Homo sapiens: one gene and its partners. The protein of the gene in region 1 purifies or fractionates together with the protein of each later gene. This does not show direct contact. Each region holds a gene or a part of one and is shown in the gene's direction. Other genes may lie near its edges.

Region 1 (3,500 bases):
TACTTGAATAACTGGGTCTAAAGCTAGAGTTTTAACTAAGTGATACTTGTAGATTCTTATTGTAACTTTTTAGGATGAAGATTTGGGAACGATTCATATGGAAAAAAAATTTTTTTAGTTGGTAAGTTTGAGAACCATGTTAATACAGTCTGGACACACACATCTGTTAATGCAGCTCGAAATTGTGCACAGTTTGTTTAGTAGCTTTTATTATCTAGGTATCCCCCCACAAACTGAAGTTTACTCTGTCATGTTTTTTTTTTTGAGATGGAGTCTCACTTTGTCACCCAGGCTAGAGTGCAGTGGCGCAATCCTGGCTGACTGCAACCTCTGGCTCCTGGGTTCAGGTGATTCTCCTGCCTCAGCCTCCGGAGTAGCTGGGACTACAGGCGCCCACCACCATGCCGGGCTAATTTGTATTTTTAGTAGGGATGGGGTTTCACAATGTTGGCCAGGCTGATCTTGAACTCCTGACCTCAGGTGATCCGCCTGCCTCGGCCTCCCAAAGTGTTGAGATTACAGGTGTGAGCCAATGTGCCTGGCCTATTTCGTTTTTTTTTTTTTTTGAGACGGAGTCTCACTCTGTCACCCAGGCTGGAGTGCAGTGGGGTGATCTCTGCTCACAGCAAGCTCCGCCTCCCGGGTTCGCGCCATTCTCCTGCCTCAGCCTCCCCAGTAGCTGGGACTACAGGCACCCGCCACCATGCCCGGCTAATTTTTTGTATTTTTAGTAGAGATGGGGTTTCATCGTGTTAGCCAGGATGGTCTCGATCTCCTGACCTCGTGATCTGCCAGCCTCGGCCTCCCAAAGTGCTGGGATTACAGGCGTGAGCCACCGCGCCCGGCCTATTTCAGTTTTAAAACTAAATACAGCCCTCGATTCCCTGTAGATATTCATTTTTGGTTTTGGACCATCATTTCAGCCTACTGTGAGCTTTCTGGAGCTGATTCGGTCAGGCTGTGCGTGTTGGGTCACTCACAGGTTTTTTTCACTTGCAAATATGAAGAGCAGTTCTATGGCTTCATTAAATTAATAGAAGTTGTCTAGATTGTGAAAAAGGATGGAACCCTGCGACATATTACTGGAGACTTTCTACCAACTTGGTTGATGTTGTTACGTTAGTCAACCAGATGTTCAACTAGCTATGCATCCTGTTAGTTGAATTTAACAGATTTTCGAGCTTCTGCTGTTCAACATTTTCCCATTTTGTTCACCAGCCTATTATTTAAAAGATTCTTTCAGATTGTCTTGTTAGATTGTTATGTGTATATATCATCCTGTCATCCTCCCTTTTTCCATTTTAGTAATCCTGTTAAATAAAAAGCACATGTTGTATAGCCTGCCTTAATAAAGAGCTGATGGTGGCTTTCTCATTTTACTGTATTCGAAAACTTATTTATCCATTTTAGAATTTTTCAGCAGTTACATAGCAGGTTTACCCACAGATGTTTTTCTGGATCTGCATTCCGCCTTTTTTTTTTTTTTTTTTTTTTTGAGATGGAGTCTTGCTCTGTCGCCCAGGCTGGAGTGCAGTGGCATGATCTCGGCTCACTGTAACCTCTGCCTTCCAGGTTCAACCAGTTCTCCTGCCTCAAGCCTCCCGAGTAGCTGGGACTACAGGCGCACACCACCACGCCCGGCTAATTGTTTGTATTTTAGTAGATATGGGGTTTCACTGTGTTGCCCATTCTGGTCTCGAACTCCTGAGCTCAGGCAATCCGCCTACCTCGGCCTTCCAAAGTGCTAGGATTACAGGCATGAGCCACTGCGCCCGGCCTGCATTTCTCCTTTTTTGAAATTTGAGCATGTGTTTATTTCTATTTATTTGATTTCTGGTCTTCTGGCACCTTGTCAAGGTAGCTTAGATAATTTGTGGTAGTTTTTAAGGCAGATGTAAAAGTTTTTTCAGCATCATGGAGTGTGAGTTATTTGGATCAGAAAGCATATTCTTTTGAACTAGCTCTGTATTCTGTTACTGTCCCCTACCCATGCCACTTACCTTAGAAGCTGGTTTCCTTTTATCAGATTTCTGACCTCCCTAGCTTGAAGATCATGCTTCTTGATGAAGATGAAGCATAGGGAATTGGCCCTGTTGTCTCTTGATATTGCATCTTCCCTAAGCAATGGGCCTTTGGTTTATCTCTTCTTGTTCTCAACAAGACTTTTTTGTTTGTTTGTTTGTTTGTTTGAGACAGGATCTCATTCCTGTCGCCCAGGCTGGCGTGTAGTGACGCAATCTCAGCTTACTGCAGCCTCAGCTTCTTGGGCTCAGGTGATTCTCAGCCTCCTCAGTAGTTCAGACTACAGGTGCGTGCCACCACACTCGGCTAATTTTTTGTGTTTTTAGTAGAGACAGGGCTTCGCCATGATGCCCAGGCTGGAACAAGACTTCTTTTGTTGTCCTCTTGCCCCAGTTCTCCACTTATTCTGGACTTTAGACTTATTGAGATTAAAAGAAAAACTTCGATTTTATATCTTTTTTATTTATGCTTATTTTTTTTTAAAGCTAACTTAACAGAAAGTTCCCAGTTATCCAAAGAGAAAAAAAGCTTGGAAATACATGACATATGTGAAGAAAGATAAACTTGAATTTAGGAGACCAGGTAACCTTAGACTGACTGACTTTGTTTTTCATTTGTGAAATGAAGATGATGATGGTCCTTTTTGGCTCTGGGATATTTGAGAAGAACAAATGAGACTAACCATGTGGGGCATTTCTAGCTTAGGGAATATGGTTAAAGAGGTAGAAGAACATACTGAGAGACCAGTAAGTGGCATTTCGTGATAGATATAAGGTAGAGAATTTGAAATGGGTTTTAACTAGAAGTGGGTCCTCTGGATTATTATATGGTGGTAGGAATGGTATTAATGGACGATATAAATGTCAGATTATGAGAAGTGCCTTATTTGTGGCAATTCAGGATTCTTGGGAATAAAAGTGAGTTTTTCTAATTAATGGGGAATCTCGGGCAGGGCTTTTATCTTCTAGATCCCTGTTGTGTAAAATGTGGATGGATAATAATTAATTTAGCAAACCTTGATTGAATACTGCGTAGTGTAATCTAATATACTGGATGTTAAGGGAAATATATGAGAAGGCTTCCCTGCTTTCAAGGGCCTTATAATCTTATAGAGGTGGTTAGCCTCTTACAGATATATATAGTGGAAGTTTCTGTTTACCACATCTGGGCTTGCTTCCCTACAGCAGTCCCCATCAATAAGCATTTATTGAGCACGAACAAGATAGGATTTTTTAAAAGGGGTACAGTTAAGTGGATTTATATATATTCACAAAATTGTACGACTGTCACCACTCTCTAATTCCAGAAAATTTTCATCACCCCCAAAAGAAACCTCATAGCTATTAACAGTCATTCCACATTCCTCGCCTCCCCAGTCCCTGGTTACTACTAATCTACTCTCTATGGATTTGCCTATTCTAGATATGCATGCAAATGGGATCATATGAGGTGTGTTCTTTTGTGTCTGGCTTCTTTCC
Region 2 (3,500 bases), on another chromosome or scaffold:
ATCTACTGTAATTAGTAACCAAATTATCTTTTGTTGTTTTTTGTTTGTTTTGTGTTTTGAAAAGGGCTAAAGCCAATTTTTAGGTTGGCTTGGGCAGAAAAGTGAAAAGAGAATGCTCCACTTTAACCGATGTCATCATCTGAAAAAGATAACACAGAAATGTTTTTCTAGTATACATGTTAAAACGGATAAACATGCACAGCGATTTCTTTCAAGAACCTTTGCACTTGCGGAATTGAGGAAGTCATGGTATTCAACCCACTCTCTTGTTGGAGACAAAAATATTATCCTGATGGGACCTCCTGGTGCTGGGAAAACAACAGTAGGCAGAATAATAGGTCAGAAACTAGGTTGTTGTGTCATAGATGTGGATGATGATATCCTTGAAAAAACCTGGAATATGAGTGTGTCTGAAAAATTACAGGATGTTGGTAATGAGCAATTTTTAGAAGAGGAAGGAAAAGCTGTGTTAAACTTCTCTGCATCTGGAAGTGTGATTTCCCTTACTGGGTCCAATCCAATGCATGATGCTAGCATGTGGCATCTGAAGAAAAATGGAATAATTGTATACCTGGATGTACCTCTACTAGATCTAATTTGTCGTCTAAAATTAATGAAGACAGATAGGATTGTAGGTCAGAATTCTGGAACATCTATGAAAGACTTACTTAAATTTAGAAGACAGTATTATAAGAAGTGGTATGATGCTCGTGTTTTCTGTGAAAGTGGGGCTTCCCCAGAGGAGGTAGCTGACAAAGTGCTGAATGCAATTAAAAGATACCAAGATGTGGACTCGGAAACATTCATTTCAACAAGACACGTTTGGCCTGAAGACTGTGAACAGAAGGTTTCAGCAAAATTCTTTAGTGAAGCTGTAATTGAGGGGTTGGCTTCTGATGGTGGCCTCTTTGTTCCTGCAAAGGAGTTTCCAAAATTAAGCTGCGGGGAGTGGAAAAGCCTAGTAGGAGCAACCTACGTAGAAAGAGCACAGATACTGTTGGAAAGATGTATCCATCCTGCAGACATACCTGCTGCCAGGTTGGGAGAAATGATTGAAACTGCTTATGGGGAAAACTTTGCCTGCTCAAAAATTGCTCCTGTCAGGCACCTTTCAGGCAACCAGTTCATCCTGGAGTTGTTTCATGGACCAACAGGATCATTTAAAGATTTGTCTTTACAGCTTATGCCTCATATTTTTGCACACTGTATCCCACCAAGTTGCAATTATATGATACTTGTAGCTACTTCAGGAGACACAGGGAGTGCAGTCTTAAATGGTTTTAGTCGTCTAAATAAGAATGATAAGCAAAGGATAGCTGTGGTTGCATTTTTTCCTGAGAATGGAGTAAGTGATTTTCAAAAAGCACAAATAATTGGCAGTCAGAGAGAAAATGGATGGGCAGTGGGTGTTGAGTCAGATTTTGATTTTTGCCAGACAGCTATAAAAAGAATTTTTAATGATTCTGATTTTACTGGCTTTCTTACTGTGGAATATGGAACAATCTTAAGTTCGGCTAACTCCATAAACTGGGGCCGACTACTTCCGCAGGTAGTTTATCATGCTTCCGCATATCTTGATCTTGTTAGTCAAGGATTTATTTCTTTTGGAAGCCCAGTCGATGTCTGTATTCCCACAGGAAACTTTGGTAACATTTTAGCAGCAGTGTATGCCAAAATGATGGGAATCCCGATTCGAAAATTTATCTGTGCCTCTAATCAGAACCATGTTTTGACTGATTTTATAAAAACAGGACATTATGATCTAAGGGAAAGAAAACTAGCACAAACCTTTTCACCGTCAATAGATATTCTCAAATCTTCAAACCTAGAACGACATTTACACTTGATGGCTAATAAAGATGGACAGCTAATGACAGAATTATTTAATCGATTAGAAAGTCAGCATCATTTCCAGATAGAAAAGGCTCTAGTTGAGAAACTTCAGCAGGATTTTGTAGCTGACTGGTGCTCTGAGGGAGAGTGCCTAGCAGCTATTAACTCCACCTATAATACTTCAGGGTATATTTTGGATCCACACACTGCTGTTGCAAAAGTGGTTGCAGATAGGGTGCAAGACAAAACTTGCCCTGTGATTATCTCATCTACAGCCCATTACTCAAAGTTTGCACCTGCTATCATGCAGGCTTTAAAGATTAAAGAAATCAATGAGACTTCATCAAGTCAGCTCTATTTGCTGGGTTCATACAATGCATTACCTCCACTGCATGAGGCTTTATTAGAGAGAACAAAACAGCAAGAGAAGATGGAGTACCAGGTCTGTGCAGCTGATATGAATGTCTTGAAGAGTCATGTGGAACAACTTGTCCAAAATCAATTCATATGAAAGCTTTCAGAGTAAATTTTTTTTTCTAGCTATAAGCATGCAATAATAAATCTCAAACACTGATTTGGAGTACAGTAGCATTTTGTCTTTTATGTAAATATCTCTATATCTGTTTGGAATTTCAAAAGTCTGATCTCTAGGGCTGACATGAGAACTCCATGTCACCTCCTCAGATCTTTAATCTGGAAGTGACAAAAGGTAACACAGTGCACGGACCTTTGAGCTATCATACTTTTGCCTTCTGCTCATGAGGGGTGTATCAATTTCCACTCCCACACCCTCACTGTTATGTGGACCAAAATGTCTGGTATACTATTTGGCGATTAAAATATTTAAGCCCAGTTTTCAGGTACTACATCTGTAACTAGTGAATACTCTGTTGATTAGAAAGTTAATTTACCACTCAAAATGGCTAACTTGAATGGAGGAAGTAGTAAACTCTTCTATTAGGATTTGGGCCAGTGTTTTTTGTTTGTTTTTTGGTGCAGTTTCAGCTCACTGCAACCTCCGCCTCCCAGGTTCAAGTGATTCTCCTGCCTCAGCCTCCCAGGTAGCTGGGATTACAGGCATGCAACACCACACATGGCTAATTTTTTTATTTTTAATAGAGATGAGGTTTCGCCATGTTTTCCAGGCTGATCTTGAACCTCTGACCTCAGGTGATCCATCCACCTCGGCCTCCCAAAGTGCTAGGATTACAGGCGTGAGCCTCTGCACCTGGCTAGGGCCAGTGTTTTTAACCCTCCTCAAATTCCATTTTGGACTACAACTAATGTGTATCTCACACTGTCCAAATTAAAGATGTACTCTGTCCTTCACTCTCCTTTGGATGTGTACGGTTAGGGTGACGATGTTTGAAAATCAACACATAACTGAAATCCAGGATGAAACAGTAAGCAGAACTACTTAGAAGTGAATACAGAAATGATCTATTTCAAGAGGAAGGTTTTCCAAAATTAAGAGTACTTGAGTAGTCTCAATAGGAGTGTATTTGTAGACAGCAGTTTCCCTATATTATTTGGAGTCAATTCTTACGTAATTTGTTGTTTATTTCTTCAGTGAACATTGTCTTTTTCTGGCAGCTGAAACTGCACACAACTGATACACATATTTAATTTGTATTCCTTTGTAGTAATACATTTTAACCATGATTTAT
Region 3 (3,500 bases), on another chromosome or scaffold:
TCAAGCAATTCTCCTGCCTCAGCTACCCAAGTAGCTGGGATTGCAGGTGCCTGACACCATGCCCGGCTAGTTTTTATATATTTTTATAGTAGAGATGGGGTTTTGCCATGTTGGCCAGTTTGGTCTCAAATTCCGGACCTCAGGTGATCCACCTGCCTCAGCCTCCCAAAGTGCTGGGATTACAGGTGTGAGCTGCCATGCCCAGCCCTTAATTGCTTATTCTTTATCTTAGTTTTCAATATTTAGAAAGCTATCCCATTTTACATGAGGAAACTGAGGTTTTGGGTCAGCAACCATGAGGTAGACCTAGGATTTGAACTAAGGACCCTGACTGTAGATTCCCTGCTCTTAACCATAACATATATAAATTTCTTGTGTTTTACTCATTTGCATAGCCCTCAGATAGTGAGTGCACAATAACTTGTAATAGATTTGTATTTTGGCCTTTGGAAGTCAAGGTCTCATCTTCTAACCTGGTATTTTTTTTCTCCCTCTAGGTTACGGGTAAATTCCGGGGAGGTGTGAACCCCTTCACCAATGGCTGCTGTAACAATGTCAGCCGTGTTCTCTGCAGTTCTCCAGCACCCAGGTACACCTATCCCTCTGGTCTAGTGTTTACCATTGGTCAGAACTTTTATCTTCTTTGGGCTTGTTCTGGTAAAGGAGGGGTCTGGTGAGAGCCTTTAGGAAGGGTTCTCTATCTTAGAATGTTAAGTACCCACTCTATCTTAGAATGGTAAGTAGTCTATCTTAGAATGGTAAGTACCTACATGCCCATCCTTTAGTGCAGTGGTCCCTAACCTTTTTGGCAGCAGGGACCGGTTTCATGGGAGACACTTTTTCCACAGATGGGGGCTGGGGTGGGGTGGTTTCAGGATGAAACTGTTCCACCTCAGATCATGAGGCATTAGATTCTCATGGCTGGGTGTGGCGGCTCACACCCAGCACTTTGGGAGGCCGAGGTGGGCGAATCACTTGAGGTCAGAAGTTCAAGTCCAGCCTGGCCAATATGGTGAAACCCCTTCTCTACTCAAAATACAAAAATTAGCTGGGCAAGGTGGCAGGCACCTGTAATCCCAGCTACTTGGGAGGCTGAGGCAGGATAATTGCCTGAACCCAGGAGGCAGAGGTTGCAGTGAGCTCAGAGCACACATACAACCTAGATTGCTTGCATGTGTAGTTTACAACAGGGTTCTAGGGTTTGCGCTCCTAAGAGAATCTAATGCCTCCGCTGATCTGACAGGAGATGGAGCTCAGGTGATAATGCTCACTGGCCCACTGCTTACCTCCTGCTATGTGGCCCAGTTCCTAACAGGCCATGAACCGGTACTGGTCTGCGGCCCAGGGGTTGGGGACCCCTGCTTTAGTGGACACTGTGAATTCCATTGATATTCTTCAGGTATTAAGGTAAATCTTTGAGAATTGAGGGTGAATAAGATACACTCTAAAGTGCTTTCCTTGAGCTAGGTATCTGCTCACAAAGGCCTAGTCCTGCTGCAGTCCTTCACAGAATCAATTCTGTTTATTGCTAAGTAAGTGATGGCCAAAACTGCAATTACTTTTTTACCAACCTAATAAAAATGGTTTACAGAAACAGTAGATACTTTAAAATATAAATGAATGAAAGCTCTCTCGCTGTGTCTCTCTCTCTCTCTCTCTCGACACTTAGGTATTTGGGGAGACCAAAGAAAGAGAAGACAATTGTAATCAGACCTCCCTTCCTTCGACCAGAAGTTTCAGATGGGCAGATAACTGTGAAGATCATGGATAATGGCATCCAGGGAGAGCTGAGGAGAACAAAGGTGAGGAATTTAGAGAAGTCAAGCTAGATAACATGGAAGTCTCACCCAAGGCAAAGAGACGGAAGCTTGCTTTAGTTTCCTTTGTGTTTTTTTTTTTTTTTTTGAGACAGAGTCTTGCTCTGTTGCCCAGGCTGGAGTGCAGTGGTGCTCAGTGCAAACTCTGCCTCCCAGGTTCAAGCAATTCTCCTGCCTCAGCCTCCCGAGTAGCTGGGATTACAGGTGTCCGTCACCTTGCCTGGCTAATTTTTGTATTTTTAGTAGAGATGGGGTTTTGCCATGTTGGCCAGGCTGGTCTCGAACTTCTGACCTCAGGTGATCTGCCCACCTCGGCCTCCCAAAGTGCTAGGATTACAAGCATGAGCCACCACGCCTGGCCCATATTTCTTACAGTGTTTATCACTTACTAATTTGGGTTAAAATTACTTAAATACAAATCTTGTTTTCTACATTAGATTTTTTTTTTTGAGAGGGAGTCTTGCTCTGTTACCTAGGCTGGACTCCAGTGGTATGATCTCAGCTCACTGCAACCTCTGCCTCCCAGGTTCAAGCGATTCTCGTGCCTCAGCCACCTGGGTAGCTGGGACTACAGGCATGCGCCACCACGCCTGGCTAATTTTTTTATTTTCAGTAGAGGCAGGGTTTTCCTATGTTGGCTAGGCTGGTCTCAAACTCCTGACCTGAAGTGATCCAACCCCCTCAGCCTCCCAAAATGCTAGGATTATAGGTGTGAGCCACTGCACCCGGCCCTACATTAGACTTTAAGTTCATTAACAATAGAAAATGAATTCATTCATTTCCATGTCTTCATAGGACTTAACAGCTTACAGCTAGATGGTAGGAGCTAAACAAGTAGTTGTTGGTTTAAATGGGCAAATAAGTGACAGAATTAAAACCTTTTTTAAACCCTTTCTTCTGCCAGGTACAGTAACTCATGCCTATAATCCCAGCACTTAGCGAGGCTGAGGTGGGAAGATCGCTTGAGTTCAGGAGCTCAAGACCAGCCTGGACAACATAGCGAGACTCCATCTCTAAAACAGACTAAAATAAAAAATAGAAAAATTTTCTGGCTGGGCGTAGTGGCTTATGCCTGTAATCCCAACACTTTGGGAGGCTGAGGTGGGTGGATCACCTGAGGTTGGGAGCTCGAGACCAGCCTGACCAACATGGAGACACCCTGTCTCTATTAAAAATACAAAATTAGCTGGGCATGGTGGCGCATGCCTGTAGTCCTAGCTACTTGGGAGGCTGAGGTAGGAGAATTGCTTGAACCCGGGAGGCGGAGGTTGCAGTGAGCCGAGATCATGCCATTGCACTCCGCCTGGGCAACAAGACCGAAACTCCATCTCAAAAAAAAATTAGCCAGGTGTGGTGGCACATGCCTGTAATCCTAGCTGCTTGGGAGGCTGAGGCATGAGAATCGCTTGAACCTGCGAGCCAGAGGTTGCAATGAGCCGTGATCACGCCACTGCACTCCAGCCTGGGTGACTGAGCAAGACTCCATTTCAAAAAAAAAAACCCAACTTTTCTTCATCTAATGCTATACCCAAACTGATTCTTGTGCCTTGTCTTCCAGTATAGTTGAGAAATATATGATAGGCAGTGGCTCATGTCTATAATCCCAACATTTAGGGTGGCCAAGGTGGGGTGATATTGCTTGAGGCCAGGGGTTCAAGACCAGCTTGGGCAACATGGCGAGAC
Region 4 (3,500 bases), on another chromosome or scaffold:
CTGTAATCCCGGCACTATGGGAGGCTGAGGTGGGTGGATCACGAGGTCAGGAGATCAAGACCATCCCGGCTAACAGGGTGAAACCTGGTCTCTACTAAAAATACAAAAAAATTAGCTGGGCGTGGTGGCACGTGCCTGTAATCCCAGCTACTGGGGAGGCTGAGGCAGGAGAATCGCTTGAACCGTGGAGGCGGAGGTTGCAGTGAGCTGAGATTGCGCCACTGCACTCCAGCCTGAGCGACAGAGCGAGACTCCGTCTCAAAATAATAATAATAATAATAATAAACCACTTAGGTTTACTGGTTTATTACAAAGGATACAATTGGGGAACGGCCAAGTGGAAGAGGTGCATAGGGTGAGGTGTGGGAGGTGGTGTAGAGTTTCTCTTTCCTCTGATGAGCCACCCAACCATCATATCAATGTATTCAGCAAACTAAAAGCTCCCAGGACCCCATAGTTTAGGGGTGTCATTACATAGGCATGATTAGACTCAGTCTTCAACTCCTTTCTCATCCTTGGAGATTGGAAGGTGGGGCTGAAAGTTTGAACCTTATACCCACATCCTGGTCCCCATCCTGAAGCTGTCTGGGTCTCCCACCCCTATCAGGAGTCATCCTGTTAGCATACAAAAGATACTCTTATTACCCTGAGATTCCCGAAGGGTTTTAGGAACTCTCTATCAGGAACCTGGGACAAAGATCAAATATGTATTTTTTATTATACCACATCATCTAAAATCAGTCAGTTTTTAAAATTACTTTCTGACTCTGCTAGTGTGCTTAAATCCTTTGTATTTTGGGAATGTTGTATTTTGGATATGTTGTATATCACATGTTTGATTAGTTGATAAACTCCAAAAATAATTTCAGAAAAACTTTTAACCATATTTGGTCTGATTAGCAAATCTAATTTTATAGGAAAATTGCATTCCTACTTTGAACGAGTGATTCATCAACCAAGGTTATATATAAATATTAGGAGGAGTTCATGGGCTTAATGAGAAATTTTTTTTTTTTTTTTGACAGTCTTGCTTTGTCGCCCAGGCTGGAGTGCAGTGGCACACTCTGGGCTCACTACAACCTCTGCCTCTCTGGTTCAAGTGATTCTTTTGCCTTAGCCTCCCAAGTAGCTGGAATTATAGGTTCCTGCCACCACGCCTGGCTAATTTTTGTATTTTTAGTAGAGACGGGGTTTCACCATGTTGGCCAGGCTGGTCTTGAACTCTTGACTTCAAGTGATCTGCCCACCTGGGCCTCCAAATTGCTGGGATTACAGGTGTGAGCCATCGTAGCCAGCCAGGAAATTTTTAAGACAGTATGACCTAATATTTAATAACTTCGGTTGGCGAATACTGTCAGACATGCATTCAAAACGCGTGGCAGCCACCTGATTTGGCTGTTTACTGCCTGGCCAATTATTAGTATCTTTGCAGTTGTGTTGCCAGTAGGGAGAATATTGCTATTTACTGTAATTTTTAGATATCACATCCTGTTCTGTACTTGGCATCAGCAGATGACTGAATGGAATCATTCTCATTTGATTAGAATTTGTCATTTAAAAGATTCCCTTGTTTATTTAGATGAAACAACATTTGAGTGAGCTTTAAAGGCAGATGCTAATAAGATGCTTTTTCAGACATGGTAGGCTCCAGCCAAGGAGTCCAGCCTCACAGTAGAGTGGGCGTGTAGTCCTGTCAGTGTGTGAATTTAACGGGCATAGTACTTTGTTCTTGCCTGTGCACCTTTGTCTCTGTAGTCTTTAAGGAGCACACATTTAAAGAACTCACCTGCGGCTGGGCGCAGCGGCTCACGCCTGTAATCCTAGCACTTTGCGAGGCCGAGGCAGGCAGATCACCTGAGGTCAGGAGATCAAGACCAGCCTGGCCAACATGGTGAAACCCCATCTCTACTAAAAATACAAAAATTAGCCAGGCGGGGTGGTAGGTGCCTGTAATCCCAGCTGCTTGGGAGGCTCAGGCGAGAGAATCACTTGAACCCGGCAGGCAGAGGTTGCAGAGAGCCTAGATCACACCACTGCACTCCATCCTGGGCGACAGAGCAAGACTCCGTCTCAAAAAAAACAAAGAACTCACCTGCTTGAAAGTACACAGGAGCATACAGACAAGCCACCCAGTGCTGCGAGCTTAGCGTAGCTTTTTATCTAAGCTGGTTGTTTGGAGAGAGGTGAAACCAGGAGTCCTGCCCATTGGGTTAAAGGGGTTCCTGCAGATTTTTTCTCTCCTTGGTCCTTGGTATTTCACCTTAAGGGCAAGGTGACTGCTCCTTTAAGGCTCTGAAGCTCCTCGCCAAGATCATAGTCACATTACTTGTTTCCCTTGGTTTCTGATTTTATTTTCACTCTGGAATGTAAGTTCTCTGAGGCCAGCGAGTCCATCTTTTAATTCAGTCAGCTGGAGTCCCTAGACCATAGTTAGGCTGGGATAGTGGGAAACACTACTGGAGAGTCAGTACAGTGACATTTTGTGGGTAAGGCCATGTATGGGTTCTCAAGCAGTGGCAGTTTTGCCTCCCAGGGGACATTTGGCAATGCCTGGGACATTTTGGGCTGTCATTTGGGGTAGTGCCACTGTAACCTGATGGATAGGCACTAGGAATGCTGCTGAACATCCTACAATGTGCAGGTCAGCCCCTATAACAAAGGATCATTTAGCTCCAAATGTCAGTAGTGTGAAGGCTGAGAAACCCTGGCTTACAGGACTTTAGTTACTATCTAGACCAGATTATCTTTTCTCTACACACATGTAGTTCAGTTTAATTGGCAGGATAGTCCTGCTTTCTTTTCTTTAGCAGACACACTGGGTAGAGTTAAGTGAAGAGAAGCTTCTTTGAAAGAAACGCTTATAAAACAACACGTACCTGGAGCAGGAGCTTGAATCAGCTGGAGCTGCTTAGGGACCCTATGCTTCCCATTTATTCAGAAATTGCAAGGTGGTAAATGAAATGTAAAGCACATGGCTTGGTGCCTGGTGCATGATAGGTGCTCAGTTGGTGTCTTCCTTCATTGCTTGCTTCCTTGCTTGTGGTAATGCAATTTTGTGGTGAGTGGGTAGCTGTAACCACTGGTTGCAAAATTAGGTTTAAGCAAGGCCTTGCAGAGTTTGAGAAATTGACAGAAACCCCATGGCAGCGATCTCTGTGGTTATCCTTATGTTTCCTCTAGGATTTTGTTAGAAACTCCAAATTCTGTTTAGGCTGCCTGTTGATGAACATTTATTGTTTGTCTGTATCTGTGCCAGGCACTGAAGCCATTCATTTTCTCTGCCTTTATGAAGCTCTCAGTCTACCTGGGAAGATAGGCACTGAACATGCGATTGTCTACAATTATTCAATTCAGAGATTGTAAATATTACCAAAGGGACAAATGGGATGTATGAAAGGGTATTAGAACAGGGGGCCTAGCCTAGCCTTTCGTAGGTATATTTTCCTTTGAAAAGAAAATATACCTAGGAAATATTTAGGCTGAAGTTGAACGAACCAGGT
Region 5 (4,300 bases), on another chromosome or scaffold:
AGGCGGGAGAATCACTTGACGTTAGAGTTTGAGACCAGCCTGGCCAACATGGGGAAACCCCATCTCTACTGAAAATACAAAAATTAGCCGGGCGTGGTGGTGCATGCCTGTAATCTCAGCTACTAGAGAGGCTGAGGCAGGAGAATCGCTTGAACCCGGGAGGCAGAGGTTGCAATGAGCCCAGATCTCACCACTGCACTCCAGCCTGGGCAACAGAGCGAGACTCCGTATCAAAAAACAAAACAACAAAACAAAACAAAAAACAGTAAAGAGAATACTATTGAGTTAATTTTACAGTTTTTCACGCTGTGGGTGTTTTCTATTCTCGTCTTTTGCTTAGCTGTCCTGTCTCCCTCTTTTTCTCAGGCAATAGTTTAGGATTTTTGTAAGTTATATTGTCAGTACTTCTCATTTAAGTTCCAGACAGTGTGCTAAGCAAAGCACTTTACTCGGTAAAGTAAGAGCTCACTTAATCTTCAAAATAACGTAGCAAGGTAGATATCACGAACATAGCAAGGTAGATATCACCGAAGGGAAAACCGCTCCCCGAAGGTCCGAAGGTCCAAGGTCTCTCTGCCATCTAGCTGCCCTGCGTATTGCCTGCCAGTGGGTAGTTGGAGCTGGGTATCTCTCCAAAGCTGGGCTCTTGGCTGCCCTTTGTGAAGGCAATTTTAAGGGACAGCAGGATGTGGAAGCCTGCGGTTAAGGAGTGAGCTGAGTCACTGGGTAACCAGTGTTGAATAATGTTTCTCAATGTCTGAAATGACACTCACTTCCTTTCCAGATTGGTAGAGGAGAAAAAAGAGGCGCAGTGAAAGCGCTCTCAAGGTGCGGTGGGTCAGGGTGATAGGCGGCGCCCGGCCGCTCCCTGGGGGTCCTGAGGGCGAGACCCCGGCAGGCTCCCGACTCCGGGAGCCGGGCGGGAGTTCGGTTTTCGCCGGCGCTCCACGGCCAGGCCACTTCGGAGGCAATCTGTGGCGGGGCGGGCGGACGCGAGGGCCGCCTCACCCCCGCGCGTCTTCCGGGACACCGGGCCCTCGGGCGCGCGGGAGGCGGGCTTAGCACGGGCGCAGGCTGCCCTCGGCGCCCGAGACACCCAGGCACAGCTGGAAGCTTCCTCCCCGTTAGCACGCGGGCCGCAGCGGGGGCTTGACCCCAATGCGAAGAGTCGGGTTTTCTGATTGGCTGAGAGTAGAAACGCAGGCGAGCGCCGCCTGAGACCCGCTCTGCGATTGGGTTTTACACGAACAGCAGAGCACGAAATAAAGAGGCCTTCAGTCATTGGGCCATTATGTGAATCTCCTTTTGGCTTCTCTGCAGACTGAATAAGCGTCTCAGGATCTTCGTCATGACTCCTAAATCTGGGCCTGTCAGTTCGCCCCAGCGTTTCTCGTCTCTAGGCACGGCATGGGGCTTACAGAGTTTAACCAATCATATAACGTCGAGATCAGGTTGCCAGGCAGATTATGCTAATAAGACCCCGCCTTTTATGCTGCTCCCACTCTGCGGCGGGAAGAACCACCTGGAGGTGGCGGGGGGGGTTGATTTCTATCACCCCTAGGGAGAGAGGATCGGGGACCCGCTGATCTTCCAGCTCCCCTCACCCAACGTCGTGTAAGTACCTAAAGGATTAAGGGAACCAGATAAGCCAGGGTCCAGACTACCCCATAGACTGGGAGGGTGTTTCGTCTTTGCTTAGTCCCACCCAAAATGGCGCCCAGCTCTTTCCGCGTCTCAGAGCCCGGCCGGGGCCAACCGACCGCGGACCCGGGTGGGGGGGGAATTGATGGTGGTGGTGGGGGGGAGAAATCCCGGCGGCACCGCCCGATGGTACAGTCCAGCCGGGGCTGGGACGAGGCACCTCACTCGGGGTGGGGGGTCAAACCATCTGCACCTTCCAAGGGGAAGAGGGCAAGGCCCCCTCCAGCAGGCCCTCCTGGCGCCGCGTTCAGCGCCGGCCTCGGCGTCTCGTCGCCCCTGCCTTCGCCGCGCGCAGCCTCCCCCTGCGACCCCCGAGTGGCTCGCACGCTCCGCCGGCCGCGCGCACCTCTCCTCCCCTGCCCGCGTTGGTTGGGCCGGGACGGCGGTTGGGCGGCCTGCGCGCTCCGGCGGCGGCGGTTGCGCGGGCGCTCCGGGCGCGGCGGGCAGGTCTCCGCCGGCCGGGAGCCGAGCACCGGGGGCTGGGGGCCGGGCGCCGGGCTGGGGGTGGCAGTGCGGGCAGGGCTCCGGGGCTGGCCGGTTGCGGGCGCGTGGGGCGGAGGGTCCTGTTCGATGGGGCGCCCAGCTTTGTCTGCGGAGGCCGCGCCGCCCACTTGCCATCGATGGCTGGGCCCCCGGCCTGCCTTCCCAAGCTAGCGTCCGGGACCGGGGCGGGGGGCCGGCCCGCAGGGGTGTGGGGTGGCCCCTGCGGGTCTGTCCCGTGGCACCGCGTCGGGGCTGGCCGGGCGGAGGCGGAGGCCGAGGCCGGGGTCGCGGCCCTGCCCCAGTCCGCCTGCACCCAGGGTGCAGCGCAGAGGCAGGGCGAGGCCGGTCGGCGCTCGGGAGAGGGCTGATGGTGTGCACCTCTCCAGCCCCTCGCCAGCTTTTGTTAAGCAGGTTTAACCCTGCAGCTAGGTGTTGATACTCTACTAAGTAAAATGGAATATTCCCCGTCTGCCCTCCAGCCACGCGAACGCAGCGCTGTTGAATTTGTGTGCGCGCCTTTAGCCTTGCTTGGTGGATGAGTTGGATTTTAGTGCATTTTCAATCAATGTGCGTGTACACTTAAGCACAAGGAGAGGTGGCTTTGTGCTGTCATCGAGGATTAGATGTGTGATGAGACCCACCCAGCTCTGCCCTGTGCCCTAATTCTGCTGCTTTGCCTGTTGAAACCTTGCCTGTCTCGTCACCCCAAATTCTCTAAACTTAGCAGTACTTAACCTTTATTAAAAACAGCAGAATCACTCATGACTGTTTTGTGGCCTCTTTTTCTGACCTGTTCTCTTTGTTTCTATCACTCCTCCATCGCTGTAAGGCAAGAAGGTGTATTATTACATTGTATTTTTTTTGTATCTTCCTACCATTCCAGCATCACAATAGCTTCCACTTTGATGAGCAGTACTTATTTGTTGTTCTAGAATAGAGAAAACAAGATTTTTTTTTAAAATTAGGATTGGTTGGGGGCAAAGCAGCGTTTAAACAGTGTTTATTCAATATGGGGTATTTAGAAAGGAACTTTGCTAGGTTTATTTAGGAGACAGGGTCTCTGGTTGCCCAGGCTAGAGTGCAGTGGCGCGATCTTGGCTCACTGCCGACTCGACCTCCCGGGCTCAAGGGATCCTCCTGCTTCAGCCTCCCTAGTAGCTGGGACTACAGGCGTGCACCACCACGCCTGGCTAATTTTTCTACTTTTTGTAGAAACGGGGTTTCATCATTTTGCCCAGGATGGTTACGAACTGCTGAGCTCAAGCAATCCTACCGCCGCAGCATCCCTAAGTGCTGGGATTGCAGGCATGGGCCCCCGCGCTCGGCCTTTAGGTTTACTTTTACAATAAATTGAGGTGAAGTTGACACAGAATGAACCATTTTAAAGTGAACAGGGACGTTTAGTGAAAGGATTACATTTTTGTTTGTTTTGGATCAAGACAAATGTCTTGTGCCTTCTACCCCGTAAGCTCCCACTCTGCTATGCTGTTCCTCGTTTTGCAAGGCAAAATTGTTTTGCTTTTTCAAAGAATTCATTTTTAGTTTTTCTAATATTTTGTAGCATGCTCCACCACATATTAATCATATATTGTATGTCAATGTAATTGAGTATATATTTTAGAAAAAGCAAGGTTCCTGTCTTCAAGGGCTCTGAATGGTTTTTACTTAGAGGTTATGGAGGTATAAAGGATAGCACAACTCAATATAATCCCAAATTGATTGGCACTACCTAAGTTTCTGCTTGCCTGTTTTGTTTTTCCTTCTAGTTTTAAGAATAATGCGTGATCATTGGAGAAAACATAAAATTTAAGCCGGGCGCTGTGGCTCATGCCTGTAATCCCAGCACTTTGGGAGGCGAGGCGGGCAGATCACCTGAGGTCAGGAGTTCGAGACTAGCCTGGCCAACATGGTGAAAGCCTGTCTCTACTAAAAATACAAAAATTGGACGGACATGATGGCAGGCGCCTGTAATCCCAACTACTCGGGAGGCTGAGGCAGGAGAATCACTTGAACCCGGGAGGCAGAGTTTACAGTGAGCTGAGATCGGGCCATTGCACTCCAGCCTGGGCAACAAGAGCGAAACTCCGTCTCAAAAAAAAAAAAAAAAAATTTAGAA
Region 6 (3,388 bases), on another chromosome or scaffold:
GAGACAAGGTCTCACTATGTTGCTCAGGCTGGTCTTGAACTTTTGGCCTTGAGTAATCCTCCCACCTTGGCCTCCTAAAGTGCTGAGATTACAGGCATGACCCACTGCCCCCAGTCCCCATTTTCTTTAAAAGGCCTGAACATTTCCTTCCTCGTGTCAGTCCTGAACAATTCACATTTTCAGGGCTCTGCTCACAGGCCTGTGACTTAGCCTGCCTGCCTATGAAACCATTAGCAAATTGGAAATACCTCTTGCACCAGTCAGAAGGGGGATTGGTTTCTCTTATATGCACATACATTGGGTCTACTGCACAAATTACAGGGCTCCAAGTGTCTTATGAGAGCAGGACTTGGGCTGACCATGTCTCTCTGCCCTCACCCATGCTCTGCTCTGATTTCAGATCCTAAGTGTGAACGTGAAGTCCCCAGCCCTGCTGCTGAGCCAGTTGCTGCCCTACATGGAGAACAGGTATGGCAGGGCGGGGGTGGGGACCAGTCGGAGTTGGGGACCTGAGGTGGGCACAGAAATACAGTCGGTAGCACAGCCAGTAGTGGGTAGAGGACAGAAGAGGTCTGGGATCTCCACATCCCTCATCTTCTTGTCCTGCCTCCCCATCTGTGTGGCTGCCATTCCCAATTCCAGTGGCTGCAGGATGAGAGTAGTATTCCAGGGGCCCAGGCATAGCCTCCTTGGCCTTGACATCAGCAGGTTTGGGACAAGGCTATGCTTTAACTCCTTGACCTTGTGGGCTGGTCATTGTCACCTTACCTGCTCTCTGTTCTTACCAACTTAAAACCAATGACAGGGTTAGCCCCATTCCTCTCCATAGGAAAAAGCCTGTCCCAGACCTCTCCTCATGCCTGCGCTTGGTCTCCAGGGACCCTGCCTGTGTTCCAGGTCCTGCAGATCTGACTGTACCCCTCACAGACACACCCTTAGGAACTGGCCAGGGGCTGTCTTCAGTAGAAGGAAAGTTCCTGACTGTCACTTCTGGTCTCCCTTACCCCATCTGCTCCTTAGAGGTTGCTCATTGATAGGCACTCACCATCAGCCTTGGGTGCCTCTTCACAAAGCCCACCCTGCCCTCTCCTTCAAGCACCTGGCAAGAGAGGAAGCAGAAGATAAGGGTTCTGAGCATGGACATCGTATTTATGAGAAATAGGCATGGAATCCTAGCTCTGCCGTGTATTGGCTGGTACTAAACCTTTCTGAGCCTCAGTTTTCTGAACTCTGAGATGGGGACAGTAATAGGACCTGTGTTGCTTCTGTGAGGGTTGCATCATTTAATGAACTCATGATAGTGTCACCATCAGTGGTAAGCTCTTAGCTTCAGCTTCTCTTATGTTTGTCTTGTCTCAGGAGGGGTGCTGTCATCCTGGTCTCTTCCATTGCAGCTTATAATCCAGTAGTGGTAAGTGCTTGGTCCTTGTGCTCCTGAGTGGTATAGGGTGAGGGGCAACTTTGTTCTTTTCCTCAGAGCCTTACAGACAAAGTGCCTGGGACAGACCCCCACCATCCTCCTGCTGCCCTGGGCTGAGCTTGTCTCCATGTGGGTGGGAGGGCTGCTGGGCCTGTGAGATCCCTGTAGGTGAGAAATCCAACTGATGCTTTCCCCCACTCTCCCATATCCTAATCACTCTGTCAATTCCCTTCCCAGGCGCTGGGTGTCTACAATGTCAGCAAGACAGCGCTGCTGGGTCTCACTAGAACACTGGCATTGGAGCTGGCCCCCAAGGACATCCGGGTAAACTGCGTGGTTCCAGGAATTATCAAAACTGACTTCAGCAAAGTGGTGAGGATTGGGTGTGTCTTCCATCTCCCAGTCTGGCTCAGTGGGAACCCTTCCCAGTGAATAAGGGATCAAGGGGTGACTGAATCCTTAGGTCAGCATGCCTATGACTGAGGTCCTCATTGTTCTCTGAACTCAGCCATGGTGCAGTCCATCCATCCTGAAAAGATGCTCCTTCTTTTGAGAAGGGCAAAGCTGCCCTAGGTGTTCTGCCTGGTGGCCTTCCCGGGGCCCTGCCCATCTTGTTTTAGTAGCACTGACTCCTTCATTTCTTCCCTTTGCCCAGTTTCATGGGAATGAGTCTCTCTGGAAGAACTTCAAGGAACATCATCAGCTGCAGAGGCAAGTGGGGTTTGGAGATTTGGTGGTCCATGTGTGGCTAGGCAGGGGCAGTTGAGTCTATTGCAAGAGCAGACCCCTCCCTGTCATCTGGCCATTGTTTTTGCTGAAATCTGGAGTCCACATGGCCCTGGAGGGTGCAAGTAGCCCTGCTGCATCCACCTTGTTCCCCATGGAGCCCACTCCCACCTGTCATCCGTGAGCCCCAGAGCAGCAGAATCAGAGTACAAGATGCTTGACACTGTGTCCTTCTTCCATCCAGGATTGGGGAGTCAGAGGACTGTGCAGGAATCGTGTCCTTCCTGTGCTCTCCAGATGCCAGCTACGTCAACGGGGAGAACATTGCGGTGGCAGGCTACTCCACTCGGCTCTGAGAGGAGTGGGGGCGGCTGCGTAGCTGTGGTCCCAGGCCCAGGAGCCTGAGGGGGTGTCTAGGTGATCATTTGGATCTGGAGGCAGAGTCTGCCATTCTGCCAGACTAGCAATTTGGGGGCTTACTCATGCTAGGCTTGAGGAAGAAGAAAAACGCTTCGGCATTCTCCTTAGGACTTATCTGCTTGTAGATTTGGCTGATCCAATTAACATGTGGGGTTCTTGGTGTGGGTCTGGGGAGCTGAAGGATTTTATGGAGCTGGTGCTTTGGAGGAATCTTAAGGGAAAGGAGTAGAAGCTCAGGCCTTTGAAGGATTTCAGCTCCTCCTCTCTGTAATTTGTGCTTTAAGCATTTTTTTTCCTAAAATAAACTCAAATTTATCCTCAAGTCTGGAAGCATCTGTCAAGGGTAGAGCCCAGGGCAGCATGGTGGGAAGAGGCCTCTACCGCCAGCTGCCCTGAGCTCGTCGCAGACACACAGAGGCGGGAGTGAGTGTGCTGCCTTGCAGAAGGCTTTGTGTGTGCTCCATTATCTGAACTGGGCCTGCTGGGGGCTCAGCAAGGTGGTGGTGGGTGACAGTGGAAAGATTCTGGGGTTCTCCCAGGGGTCCTCCAGGCTAATACTTCTTAATGTTTTCTGGGCCACACAGGCCTTTGAGAACCCAGAGAAAACAGTTATACCGAATCTTGTGCATAATTCCAGTTAGAGGAGAGTAGTCAGAGCTGAAGTTCCTCTTGGGGTGAACACATGGCTTTCTCAGAAAAGGCCCTGTGTATTGTCCTGAGTCATATTCGGGGGCACCGCCCTCTGTGTATGCATACTGAGGCTCAGCACAGTGGAGGGGGAACAGTGGTCCTCGAGCCATCCGTGGCCCTGAGCACCACTCT
Region 7 (3,500 bases), on another chromosome or scaffold:
AGTACCAGCTCCTCACCTCACAGCCCCTTCCAATCAGGAGCCTTCAGTCTCCCTTCCAATCTCACCATCCCCAACCTTTACTCCAAGGGTCATCTCCCATGTGATCTCTAACAGCACGGATATTTTCCCTGTTTCTGTGCTTTATTTAGATGGAGTAATCATATAGTACGTACTGTTCTGCATCTGGCTGATTTTACCCTACTTGTTTTCCAGTTTCTTTAATGTCCCTGTCTGTTTGTAAGATGTAACTGTAGTATGTGTGTGCGTTCCCATCGCCATTATGGTACCTGTTGTATGAGTGTATCCTAGTTAACATATCCATCCTACTGTTGGTGAGAGTTTGGGTAGTTTCTAGTTTTGGGCTCTTAGCACTGCCGAACATTTTTCTTCATGGGTTTGTTGAATACAAGTGCATTCCTGTCATGGGATTACTCAGGAGTGGCACACATAGTGTTCACCTCTCATCGGTGCTGCCAAATAGTTTGCCAAAATGGTGGTACCCGTTTGCACCGCCATTGTGTGAGGGTTTTTTTTTTTTTTTTTTTTGAGGCGGAGTTTTGCTCTTGTTGCCTAGGCTAGAGTGCAATGGCATGATCTTGGCTCACTGCAATGTCTGCCTCCCGAGTTCAAGGGATTCTCCTGTCTCAGCCAAGTAGCTGCGATTACAGGCATGCATTACCGTGCTTGACTAATTTTTGTATTTTTAGTAGAGATGGAGTTTCACCACGTTAGCCAGGCTGACCTCAGATTCCTGACCTCAGGTGATCCACCTGCCTTGGCCTCGCAAAGTGCTGGGATTATAGGCATGAACCCTTGCACCCAGCCTATTTTTTTTTGTATTTTTAGTAGAGATGGGGTTTCATCATGTTGGCTAGGCTGGTCTTGAACTCCTGACCTCAGGTGATCTGCCCGCCTCAGCCTCCCACAGTGCTGGGATTACACATGTGAGCACTGTGCCCGGCCTGTGTGAGGGTTTTGATTGTTCCACCTGCTCCTCTGCTCCTCACCAACGCTCAGTAATTCCCAACTTGTAGACAGGCTACTTACTAAAGGTTTACAGTTGTAATTCACAGGGAAAGCTGAGTAAGAGACAACACAAGGGCCAAGACAAGCCAAGCACCACTTGAAAGAACGCTTCTGATTGGCTATGGGGTGGGTGGAAAGTTAACCAAAGACTTTCCCCGTGGTTCTTGGCCCATGGTATAAACTGAGTAGCTCACGAGCTCAGGAGTCGGCCAGTCTTTATTTGCGTGGCTCTTTTGGGCCTTATGGTTTCTTCTTGTCCCAGGAAACATCATCTTATTGTCTCTTGGAAACTGAAACATCTTGTTTTGATTTTCAGAGGCGGATCTTAGATGGAAGTCTTGGCTTTGCTGCAGGGGTAAGTAGCATGTAGTAGGAGAAATGGAAATTGAGGCATACTGATTCTGACATGTGTCTGCCAAGGGCTGTCTTCAGTCCCTCCCCTTGCGACCTAGATGCATCTCTGTGTTCCTCAGGCACTAACACCTCCCTCTTATCACCTGCCATATTTATTTCCCAGCTTATCAAATGCCCATTTCTCTTTAGACAGCAATCGAGGTTTATTTGACAGCTGCCTCAGGACTAGGGAAATAAGATCTTATTTGGTAAGGGCCTAGCACAGGCCTAGCCTAATACATAGTTGGCTCTAACTAAATATACTTTTTCCTCCCCTTCTCCCTTAAAAGATCTTTTTTATAGGCCTTTTTTTTTTTTTTTTTTTTTTTTTTGAGACAGAGCCTTACCCTGTCACCCAGGCTAGAGTACAGTGGCACAGTCATGGTTCACTGCAGCTTCAACTTCTCTGGACTCAGGTGATCCTCCCAACTCAGCCTCCCAAGTAGCTGGGACTACAGGCATGTGCCAACGTGCCTGGCTGATTTTTGAGTTTTTGCAGAGATGGGGTTTCACCATGTTGCCCAGGCTGGTCTTGAACTCCTGGGCTCAAGTGATCCACCTGCCTAGGCCTCCAAAAGTGCTGGGATTACAGGCGTGAGTTATGGAACCCAGCATATTATAGACATTGTTAAACATGTAAAAATTGTGGATAGAAGCCTGTAATGCATCCCAGACACCCATCTCCCAACTTCAATCATTATTGACATTTTGCTAATCTCAGTTCACCTGTCCTCCCCAAAACTTCTTGGGAGGTTAGAATATTTTATAAAAGCTAATCCCAGATGACATGTAATTCCACCTGTAAATTCAACACACATGTCTAACTGAATGACTTTTTAAAAATAAACATAATCACATGGCCATTATACCTACCAAATTAATAATTCCTTTTTATGATCTAACATCCAGTCCATATTCAGATTTTCTTCATCTTTCTAAAGGTGTCATCTAATATTGTTTTGTTATAATTGGGGTCCAAACAAGGTTTCTATATTGCATTTGCTTGTTATATCTTTTAAGTCTCTTTAATTTTTTAACAGTTCATTTTTTTTTTCATGCTAGTAATTTGTTGGAGAAACTGGGTCATTTGTCTCTAGAATGTTGGCTGATTACTTCCTCGTGGTGCTGCCTAACTTGTTCCTCAGTCCCCTGTATTTCCTGTAAGCTGAGAGTTAGACCTGGAGTCTTGATTAGTTCAGATTCCATTTTTCAGGCATGAAGATGTCATGGTGCTGTGTATTGCAGATGTATTACCCATATCAAAAGGCGTGTAATATGTGGGTTTCCCTTTTAGTTGATCAGGGTTTGGTTTCTTTCTTCAGTTTTTATAGCCCTGCGATCTGGAAAAACTAGCCTGGAGGTGGAGCCTGCCAGAGGCCATCTGAGTCAGTAGCTGTTAGACTGGAGCCACTGTTCCGTCAAAAACACTGTCCTTTCTGAGCCATACACAGGTGCACAGAGAGTGTTGAGAAAATTAGTTTCTAGGTCCTCAGCTTCCATACGTTCTCTTCCCTATAACTGCTGTGCCTGAGAATGCCGGGGAAGCCAGCCCTACTTTCTTTCCTTCCTTGGCACAGCTTCCCTTTCCCACCTTACACAAGAAAGATGCTCTTGCCTTATAACCTTGTCTCTGGGTGGCATGGTCTTCAGGCAGACATGGAGGGCCCCTTGGAATGTTGGTGCTGGCACGGAGAAAGTGAAGGGCCTTGTCTCTAATCACTGGGCATAAGTCCATTTTTTTTTTTTTTTTTTTTGAAATGGAGTCTCCCTCTGTTGTCCAGGCTGGAGTGCAGTGGCTGGATCTTGGCTCACTGCAACCTCCGCCTCCCGAGTTCAAACAATTCCCCTGCTGCAGGCTCCCGAGTAACTGGGATTACAGGTGTGCACCACCACGCCTGGCTAATTTTTTTTTTGTGGTTTTAGTAGAGATGGGGTTTTGCCGTGTTGGCCAGGCTGGTCTCGAACTCCTGACCTCAGGTGGTCTACCCAACTCGGCCTTCCAAAGTGCTGGGATTACAGGTGTGAGCCACCATGCCCGGCCCACAATTCCTTTAGCAGTTCTGATGTGATCCTGTCCTTTG

What was found.
Region 2: the proteins of TMEFF1 (region 1) and THNSL1 purify together in Homo sapiens (affinity purification with mass spectrometry, with the first as the bait; 3 studies listed by BioGRID). This does not show direct contact.
Region 3: the proteins of TMEFF1 (region 1) and ZDHHC5 purify together in Homo sapiens (affinity purification with mass spectrometry, with the first as the bait; 3 studies listed by BioGRID). This does not show direct contact.
Region 4: the proteins of TMEFF1 (region 1) and METTL9 purify together in Homo sapiens (affinity purification with mass spectrometry, with the first as the bait; one large-scale study listed by BioGRID). This does not show direct contact.
Region 5: the proteins of TMEFF1 (region 1) and PRDM10 purify together in Homo sapiens (affinity purification with mass spectrometry, with the first as the bait; 3 studies listed by BioGRID). This does not show direct contact.
Region 6: the proteins of TMEFF1 (region 1) and DHRS2 purify together in Homo sapiens (affinity purification with mass spectrometry, with the first as the bait; 3 studies listed by BioGRID). This does not show direct contact.
Region 7: the proteins of TMEFF1 (region 1) and SLC39A11 purify together in Homo sapiens (affinity purification with mass spectrometry, with the first as the bait; 2 studies listed by BioGRID). This does not show direct contact.

The regions. Positions count from the first base shown.
Region 1 is NC_000009.12:100,476,149-100,479,648, forward strand, and holds part of TMEFF1 (tomoregulin-1 precursor), read left to right. Parts: intron 1-3,500.
Region 2 is NC_000010.11:25,023,112-25,026,611, forward strand, and holds part of THNSL1 (threonine synthase-like 1), read left to right. Parts: intron 1-64; 5' UTR 65-112; coding exon 113-2,344; 3' UTR 2,345-3,500.
Region 3 is NC_000011.10:57,692,114-57,695,613, forward strand, and holds part of ZDHHC5 (palmitoyltransferase ZDHHC5), read left to right. Parts: intron 1-497; coding exon 498-589; intron 590-1,669; coding exon 1,670-1,802; intron 1,803-3,500. UniProt on the Homo sapiens protein: Palmitoyltransferase that catalyzes the addition of palmitate onto various protein substrates such as CTNND2, CD36, GSDMD, NLRP3, NOD1, NOD2, STAT3 and S1PR1 thus plays a role in various biological processes including cell adhesion, inflammation, fatty acid uptake, bacterial sensing or cardiac functions.
Region 4 is NC_000016.10:21,606,077-21,609,576, forward strand, and holds part of METTL9 (protein-L-histidine N-pros-methyltransferase isoform 1 precursor), read left to right. Parts: intron 1-3,500. UniProt on the Homo sapiens protein: Protein-histidine N-methyltransferase that specifically catalyzes 1-methylhistidine (pros-methylhistidine) methylation of target proteins.
Region 5 is NC_000011.10:130,000,036-130,004,335, reverse strand, and holds the start of PRDM10 (PR domain zinc finger protein 10), read left to right. Parts: upstream 1-1,500; 5' UTR 1,501-1,614; exon of another isoform or gene 1,615-1,712; intron 1,713-4,300.
Region 6 is NC_000014.9:23,642,752-23,646,139, forward strand, and holds the end of DHRS2 (dehydrogenase/reductase SDR family member 2, mitochondrial), read left to right. Parts: intron 1-400; coding exon 401-468; intron 469-1,359; coding exon 1,360-1,411; intron 1,412-1,657; coding exon 1,658-1,792; coding exon of another isoform or gene 1,793-1,803; intron 1,804-2,075; coding exon 2,076-2,131; intron 2,132-2,390; coding exon 2,391-2,502; coding exon of another isoform or gene 2,503-2,551; 3' UTR 2,552-2,888; downstream 2,889-3,388. UniProt on the Homo sapiens protein: NADPH-dependent oxidoreductase which catalyzes the reduction of dicarbonyl compounds. Displays reductase activity in vitro with 3,4-hexanedione, 2,3-heptanedione and 1-phenyl-1,2-propanedione as substrates.
Region 7 is NC_000017.11:73,082,689-73,086,188, reverse strand, and holds part of SLC39A11 (zinc transporter ZIP11), read left to right. Parts: intron 1-1,342; coding exon 1,343-1,381; intron 1,382-3,500. UniProt on the Homo sapiens protein: Zinc importer that regulates cytosolic zinc concentrations either via zinc influx from the extracellular compartment or efflux from intracellular organelles such as Golgi apparatus. May transport copper ions as well.